Regions from separate parts of the Homo sapiens genome. Here region 2 is linked to region 1. The links come from fine-mapping of genetic effects on gene expression. A gene starts in region 1. The other region holds a variant in brackets. All regions are shown on one strand. Distances are from middle to middle. Region 1 holds the start of SERP2 (stress associated endoplasmic reticulum protein family member 2). Region 2 has its middle 29 kb from the start of SERP2.

Region 1 (4,396 bases):
ACATCAATTATAAGTTGCTTCTCAATGTCAACCCGGGCAGCCATTTTTTTTTCCTCAGTAAAAATAGGGAAAACATAAATCAATGTGACAAAATGGTTCCAATTTGATGGCATCTTGGCATTTTGCTGCCTAATCACAACTGAGTGATATAATTCCTAAATGAGAGAATTTTAAGGATTACTTAGGTCTTGTGTATAAAGCTCTGAGTAGAGTTGAGTTATGCTTAGACTTGTGTATAAAGCTCTGAGTAGAGTTGAGTTTGGTCCTAGAGTTTCTCTGCCGTAATACTGCTTGGTTTTGCAAGAATTCTGGTGTGATGATTACAGATCTAGCTTTTTGCTTAGTTAATCAAACCAATATAGTTTCTTTGGCTAAAAGGAATTGATTCATCAAATCTGCAAGCTTTCCCAGCCAAACTCCAGGCTTCAGCTGGATTTCCACTTAACTGTACGGGGTAACAGATCCCAGGCGCCTTTGCTCATATACTTGGAGACCAACTTCGCCAAACTACCCATGCGACTCATGCCTCTGAATGTCCAAAGTCACAGGCCTCGCATTTTCTGTTGATGATAATCTGCTTTGCTAAAAGAAACTCCTGAGTGTAAGGCACAGGTTTTACTTAAAAGTCCAGTTGCAAAGCTTGAATTTACAGTTCTAGGGACACCGAATGCCTGACAATAAACTGGTCTCTAAAGTTATACCATGAGAATGAGTCTGAATTCACCAAGTGGAAAGAATAGGAATGCTGCCCTTAGACTTTAGCCTAGGGGCTGAGGGAGGTCTCGCTGGAAGAGAGGTAAAAGAGAAAAAAGAGGCTGGAGGGAATGTGGGTCCAAATCTCACTCCCCATTTTGAGCTCTTTCCACACCTCCAGTGAAACCGTCACAAAGGGGCTGGAAAGAAAACTTGATCCTGGTGCAAGTCTGTTGGGGAGGGAAGACAGGTGGAGTCCGGGAGGAGATGACAAGTGGCCTCCATTTAGCCATTGATTCATTCATTCATTCAACAAACGTTCTAGAACATACTAGGTTCCAGGCTCTGTGTCATGCAACGTTCTAGAACATACTAGGTTCCAGGCTCTGTGTCATGCAGTTGACTTAACTGGCCCCTAAGGATGAGGCTTTCCGTCTTTCTCCGGGACAAGGCCCAGCTGTCTCCCGGGCAGGGGGACAGGGGGTGCGGGTCGGGGAGGAGGGCTCCTCTGCGCCTCCCTGGTAGCCCAGGTAGCCACTCCCAGAGGGGCCACGACCAACCAGGGCCCTCTCCGCCCACGAGGACGCCAAGCAGACCGCGCCGCCCTGAACCCAGCTCTCAGCCCCCACTCTGCAGGACCCCGCAGAAGGGGCGGGCCGGGAGCCGGGAGGCCGGACCCTGCGCCGCTACCCGCCCGGCCCCGCCCCCACCTTCCGCCCCACCCCGCCGGGCTGCAGGGCTCTGCCTGGCCGGCGCCGACCCCGCCTTACCAGGGTTTTGGCTACGTTCCCCCTCTGGGTGATGTTTTTGCTGTGCTTCTCGTTAGCCATCCGGATCCGCTGTTTGGCCACCATGGCTTGTGCGCTCTGAAATGCTCCCACCTGCAAGGATTCCCCCTGCGTTAGCTCCTGCGACAGGGCCGAGCGCGTCCCGCCGAGGCCCCCGCGGCCCACCCGGGCGCTGCAGGTGGCAAGGCGTGGCCCCGAGCCCTGCGCACCCCGCTCCCCGAGCCCCGGCTAGCCGACTCCAGAGAGAGGCCGCAGCCCGGACGGAAGTAATCTCTCATCTCAGGAAACCCTTTCCGACTTCCTCGCCATCCTTCCGGTCCCCGCAGCCACCTACCCCGCGCGGCCACCGAGGCAGGCGCGACCGCACGTCCTCCCGCGCCGAGCGGCCGGAGCGCAGCGCGCAGAGCCGGGGCCCTGCAGTGTCGCGGTCCTGTAGCCGAATGCTGCGGGGCCGAAGGTTCGGGCGACCACGGCGTTTGTGAGCGCGTCGGGGACGGGGACGCGGCCCCTCCTGTGTTTGTCGGCCGGTGACCCACCCCAGCCCCGGGGAAGGGATGAGGGCGGCCGCGCTTCAGGCCGGGCCGCGCGGTCTCCCCTGCACCGCCGCCCCCTGGACGAGGGCTGGACCCAAGGCGGTGGTCAGGGACCTCAGAACACAAGTAGAACCAGTCCAGGCCCGGGCCCGCGCTGCCCGGGTATGGTCCACCAAACGAGCCTTCTCTTTAAGGGTCTCGAGAAGGGCCCCACGCTGGGGGACCCCACTGCAGAACTTTTCGTGAGGGCTGCAAGGAGGGCCGCGTTGTAAAATAAAGAGGAGACACGAAGCGGCATCCCCTGAGGGTTGGGGATCGGGCCGTGAGGATGGAGTTGGGACAGGCCTTTTTGCTTTGGTAGTTGTAGGGGTTGCATTGGAAGATGGGCCAGCGGCAGAGCGGAGCATGCAGGAAAGAGGAAGAGGCCTTGGACCTGCAGCCCAGGTCGGATTTGGTGGTTACTGTCTAAATCTGAAGCTTTGGCCTGCCTTGACTCCCCACCCACCCAGGGCAGCTTGGACCTCTCTCTAGCCACCCTTGTCCCGAGGGGTCTGAGTGTCTCCCAGACTAAACTGGGCATTTTCTGCAGTGGAAGGATAAAAATGGAAGCGTTTACGCGCCTCCCAGACACTGGTATTAGGGCTCAAGAGCTCTACAGATTGCCTGGGGAGGTAGGGGTGGAAGGGGTTCAGTTCCTCACTTGGAGTTAGCTCTTAGAAGCTCAGAAGAGTGGAGGCGAAGAGGGGACATTCAGCCTGGGAGATCTGGGGCAGCGGGAAGTGGGGATACCGGGTCGGGGTGAAGGCAAGCAGCAGCACCCCCAGCATGGGGAAGAAGGCCTGAGGCTGTCTCTGGCCACTGCATCTCTAGGCCTTCTCTTGGAGCGGGAGGTGGCTGGGTTTCCAGGGAATTTTGTGTGAGTAAAATTTTCCCATGTCATTGGAGAGTTAGGAAGAGCTCCTCTTTTGGGGCCTTTTTCCAAGCGGGTCCCCCTCACCCCGCTACAGGCTTCTTGTCACTCAGGCTTCAATAAAGGCCATTCTGGGGGCTGCTTGCTGTAACCTAGAAGACAGAATTGCCTAGGATCATTAGTAGAGTCATTTTTTTTTTTTCCTACTCTACAGGCCAATTAATTTGAAACAAGCTTCTATGGTCTTTTAACTGTTAGCATCACCACTGTTGTAACAGGACCATAAACCCAGTCTGCCCCACTCTAGTCCCATGTTTTTAATAACTGTTGGCTCTTTTTTAGGGGTTTGGGTGGGGGGATTCCTACCTCAGTGATCCCTGCTGAGCCTGGCTGTTGTCTGTGGTCCAGAAGGTTCCTTTACCTGACTCACTCCTCTCAGATCATGTCCAAATACCAGGAGACTGACCCAGGTCCTCACCAGGTGAGTAGAGGTCTGGCTCTGAGCGACATTAAGGAAAAGACACAGACAGAGACTGTTTTCTCTTTGGGTCTTCACATTCAGTGAGTACAGTTCAGAAGTGTTCTTAACTGAGAGAAGCCCCTTTTGGGGAAAATTTTTCTTTACTGTTGACTCCTTTTTCCTGCTATGCTTCACTTTTCCGGCATTTTAAATTAGTTTGTTTTAATTATGAGTAGACTACATCTACACAGTAAATAGTCAAACAGAAATAGGATAGAAAATGAAAAGTAAAGGTCTCTCTTTCCTTGCCACCCTCCCCAAAAAGTTCCCACGGTTCCTGGGTTGCCCTTCCAGTATATACAAGACTATTTGTATATTCCCTTCTAAAAAAAAACGGAATAGTAGTATGCAAACTGTTCTGCCACGTGCTCTTCTAACTTAATATATCAACATTATCATATCACTTATATATGACCTCTTTCTTGTAGTTGTGTTATGTCTCATAGTATGATTATACAGTAATATATTGAACTGATGTAACCATGGATGATTATTTCCAGTTTTTCTTTTTTTGTGGTTGCCAACAATGCTTCAGTGAATATCCCTGTACATAGATCAGTGTGTACTTGTGCAGGTATATCTGCGTGTGATATTGTGAAATATATATTTGATTGTAGTCCCTGTTTCCTGACCTAAAACTCTTAAATTCCTTGGACTCTCCAGAGTGATGAAAATATCTTACCTTTTGTATGCTAATGAGATGGTTGGTGACTTGGAGACCCTAGATAGCTTCAGGATGGGGACTGGTCACCAGAAAGATCAAGGCAGGATTAGAGGGTTGGGACTTTTAGTCCCACCCTGTCCCCCCAGACCTCCACAGAGAGGAGAGGGGCTGAAAGTTAAGTTGATCACCAGTGACCAATGATGTAATCAATCAGACATATGCAATGAAGCCTGTATAAAAGCCCAAAGGATAGGGTTTGTTGAGTTCTGGAGAGCAGAACATCAGGTT
Region 2 (4,396 bases), 29 kb after region 1:
TTTATTTATTCATTCATTCATAAAATGTTTATTAGGCCTTTTTATGTACCTGACACATTTATATTACACCTACTAGTTATAAAACCCCATGGAGTCAATATTATTATCTCCATTTTACAGATGTAGAAATGAAGCTCAGTGAGGTTACATAATTTGCATGAGAACACCCACTTGGTAAGTGACAGAGGAAGAATTTAAACCTATGTTGTTCTGACTTCCAACTTCTAGTAAAAATGTAGGCTGTGTTGTGGAAGGAGGGGAGAGCTAATATTTCTTTAGTACCTATTATGCCCCAGGCACAACCTGATATACTTTATTGACAAACTTTCTTCAAATTAGATTAAATTGTGACCTCTCAGAAAAGCAAAAATGAAAGAAATACAAAATTGTTTCCATAAGATAAAACTATAGTGCTCAAACAAGAAGAAGGAGGACTAGTTCTTTCTAAAACTTGTATGGAAATGCAAAGGACCTAAAATTGCCAAAATAATTTTGGAAAAAGAAGAACAAAGTTGGAGGACTTACACTATCTGATTTCAAAAGTTGTTTTAAAGCCACAATAATTAGATACAAAAGGATAGACATATAGGTCAATGGTAAAGACTAGAGTCCGGAAATAAATTCTCACATTTGTGGTTAATCGAATTTTGAAAAGGGTGCAAAGAACAAAAGGGTAGCCTTTTTAACAATGGGGGAAAGAAGAGACTTTTCAAAAATGGTGCAGGAACAATTGGATGTCTGTATACACAAACAAACAACAGCAACAATAATAAAGTGTTTAGATTTTTACCTCACACCATATGTAAAATATAACTCAAAATATACCATAGATCTGCATGTAAGAACAAAAGCTATGAATCTACTCAACAAAATCAGTAGAAAAATCTTTGTGAGCTTAGGTTGGGCCAAAGTTTCTAAGATGTGAGTTGCATAAAAGAAAAAATAGATGTTAGCCTTTATCAAAATTATGAACTTCTGCTCTTTTAATGACATTGTTAGGAGAATGGAAAGACAAGCCACAGACTGGGAGAAAAGATTTGCAAATCATTTATCTTTGATAACGGACTTGTATCTAAAATACATAAAGAATGCTTATGACTCAATAATATGACAAGTCAATAATAAGCAAAATGTGTAAACAATTTAAACATATTTACCAAAGAAGATACATGAATGGAAAAACAAAAACACATGAATAGATGCTTGTCATTAATCATTAGGGAAATGCATACAAAGCCACAGTGAGATACCAGTACATATCCACTAGAATGTCTATAATCAAAAAGATGGTCAATACCAAGTGTTGGAGAGAATATGGAGACACTGGAGCTCTCATATGTTGTTGGTAAGAATGTAAAGATGGTAGTTTCTTTGGAAAGCAGTTTTGTAGTTTTAAAAAACTTAAATTTACTGTAGAACCCGGCAGTCCTACTTCTAGGAATCTAGTAAAAAGACATGAAAGTACATAGCCACACAAAGACTTGTATATAAATGCTTATAGCAGCTTTATTCAATAATAACCCCAAAGTGTCAACTGATGACAAACAAAATGTGGCATATTCATACTGTGGAATACTACCCAGCAAGGAAAAGGAATGAAATATTAAAACATGCAAAAACATAGATAAAACTCAGAAACATTATACAAAGTGAAAGAAGTCAGATACAAATGACTGCACATCGTGTGATTCAATTTACATGAAGTTTCTAGAAAAGGCAAACCTGTTGGCTGGGTGTGGTGGCTCATGCCTGTAATCCGAGCACTTTGGGAGGCCAAGGTCGATTACGAGGTCAGGAGTTCAAGATCAGCCTGGCCAAGATGGTGAAACCCCGTCTCTACTAAAAATACAAAAATTAGCCAGGTGTGGTGGCAGGTGCCTGTAATCCCAGCTACTTGGGAGGCTGAGG[C/T]GGGAGAATCGCTTGAACCCGGGAGGTGGAGATTGCAACGAGCCGAGATCACGCCAATGCACTCCAGCCTGGGTGACAGAGTGAGACTCTGTCTCAGAAAAAAAAAAAAATGAAAAGGCAAACCTGTAGCTTGAGGTTGAGTATGGGGATTAACTGCAAACAGGTATGAGGAAGTTTTCTGGGGTGTAGAAAATGTGCTCAACCTGGATAGGGGTGATGCTTATACAGATGGCTTAGTTTACTAAAATTAATCAAACTCCACACCTGAAATAGGCGAATTTTATGGTATCTAAATTATACCTCAATAAAGCACTTATAAAATGCATTGCATTTAACCAGCCATCTTATTCTGTCTGATATAGCTTTCCCTCCAATACTTGACATGTCAGGCACTTACGACATTTTGGATTAGTAGTCGTGTAGGAACATATTTGCAAGTGTGTTGCTACTTGTTGTTGCCTTCCAATTGCTTCCCTTAGGAATGTTCTAAACTATGGAAGGAAAAGGATGTACATAGATACTGCAGAGTTCTACAAAAGATGATTTCTTAAGAGACACATTTGGATAATTGGAGGAGAAATCACTCAAGTAAGCAACTAAACTCTTCAATGTTCGTATTTTTATAATGGAAAAGAGTGCTATTAGGTTCACATTTGCCAAGAATTGAGTCAATGCCTTTTGCACTTATAGGGTCTATTGACACAGTAGAGAAGGCTGTTCTTTGCACCTCTGATTCAGGGAGTGAAGACCTGTTTTCCACCAACTGTTACAGAAGAAACTTATGCAACAGAAAATTCAATGTCCATGCTCTGGGAAGCTTATGAAGAAACTAGTAGATTCTTGAACAACAATAACAACAATAACAGTAATAAGACATCACCAGTTGCTGAGGTGGTACTTCTGTCTGGGTTCTGGCCCCATAGTTTTTGTTCCAGAGGATAAAAGAGGTGTCCCTCAACCGCCTTTCTTTGCAGCCCTCCCTCTGAGGGCAAAAAAATGATCCCAAAGAACAAATTTGATCCTGTCACTCCTCTGCTTAAACCTTTCAGACAATCCTACTCAATAATCTATTGCAATTTCCTCAAACTTTAGTCAAAATATATATATTTTTGCCTTATCCCAGTGCCATTTATACACTTTCTACTTAAAGCGTGCTCTTTGGACCACCCTCATGGGCAGCATCTGGGAGCTTACCACAAATGCGGAGTCTCAGGCTCCACCCCGACCTCCCCTCAACAGAATCTGCATTTAAACAAGATACTCAGATGGTGTGTATGCATATTAAAGGTTGAAGGACACAGTCCTACACTTTCTAGATATATATTTTTTAATTGGCATTCTTCTAAAAATGCAAACAAATCTCTTTAAAGACAACTATATCACTAATACAAGTGAAAAGCCAGTGCCATTTTCTATAAATAGCATATTATCTATAAAAGTAAATACAATAAACATAAAACAACGTGCCAGGAAAAATTATGAAAGACATTAAAATGGGCAAAAAATAAGGTTACTGGGTATCTTGTCTATTGCACCCTTCTGGGTTATTTGTTCTTTTAATTGTTCTTGAGCTATTTATAAGACTTTAAGTTATAGAAAACTTATGTGTAAATAGACTTACACAATACACATCTTACCAATAGGAGAGCCAATGAGTTTTAGCTGATGGAATGGAATTGCTTACTGCTCTGTTGATATTGATCAGTTTTGCCTCTATTGGTAAATTCATCTCAGCATTCCTTATCTGCCTCTTTATGTGTGTGTTACTTGAATTCTCCTTTGAACTGGTTGTAACATCTTACTTGTTCACTCATTAATAAGTTAAATAAAATCATTAACACATGTTCATTTTATATTTGTATGAAAGTTATGATTTTATCTTTTAAAAATTATCCTTTGACAAACATAATTTTCAACTGTAGCTAGATACTGATGCCTTCCAACAATTCTAAGCCTGAGGCCAATCTTTGTCTGATAAAGATGGAGATGAGCACATTTTTCATAGGTACTTATTCATTCAGCAAATATCTTTTGAACATCTGCTGTGTCCTGAACATTGTTCACTTTAACAGTTGGGAATTATTCAGGTGTGAAAAAAATGTTAAAAATTCCTGGCCTTAATGAGCGTATATTCTGGTAGGGATAGATACATACTAAACAAAATAAAATTGAAAATTATGTAGTATACTAATTGATGATAAATGCTATTGGGAAAAATAAGTCAAGGATGGAGTTATGAAGGGGATTCAATTTTATGTAACTGGTGTCAGGGAGGGCATCCCCGGGAAGACGACATGTGAACCAAGACTTGAAGAAAATAGGGGTGTGAACCACAGGTATCCTGGGAAGGGCGTTCCAGGCAGAGAGAATGGAAAGCGCAAAGGTCCTGAGTAGGAATGCGCTTGTTGGGTTCAAAGACTAGGAAGGAGGCTAATGTGACTCTAGTAGAATGCATGAGGGAAGGAGACAAAATGAGCTCAGAGATGTC

The links. PIP is the estimated chance that this variant, and not a neighbour inherited with it, causes the effect. A credible set is the group of variants that fine-mapping cannot tell apart.
Region 2: its variant is the best candidate, but not a certain one, in a credible set for the expression of SERP2 in whole blood (INTERVAL, PIP 0.80).

The regions. Positions count from the first base shown.
Region 1 is chr13:44,371,177-44,375,572 of GRCh38, reverse strand. SERP2 (stress associated endoplasmic reticulum protein family member 2) reads right to left here and starts at 1,749. Exons shown (of 3, transcript NM_001010897.3): 1 at 1,464-1,749. The coding sequence starts at 1,547. LOC105370297 (a long non-coding RNA gene) reads left to right here and starts at 2,007. Exons shown (of 2, transcript XR_001749858.3): 1 at 2,007-2,176; 2 at 2,376-4,396.
Region 2 is chr13:44,342,442-44,346,837 of GRCh38, reverse strand. No RefSeq gene overlaps it. Among named protein-coding and RNA genes, the nearest start is that of SERP2, 29 kb to the left of the region's middle. The variant C/T (reference allele first, on the strand shown) is at 1,909.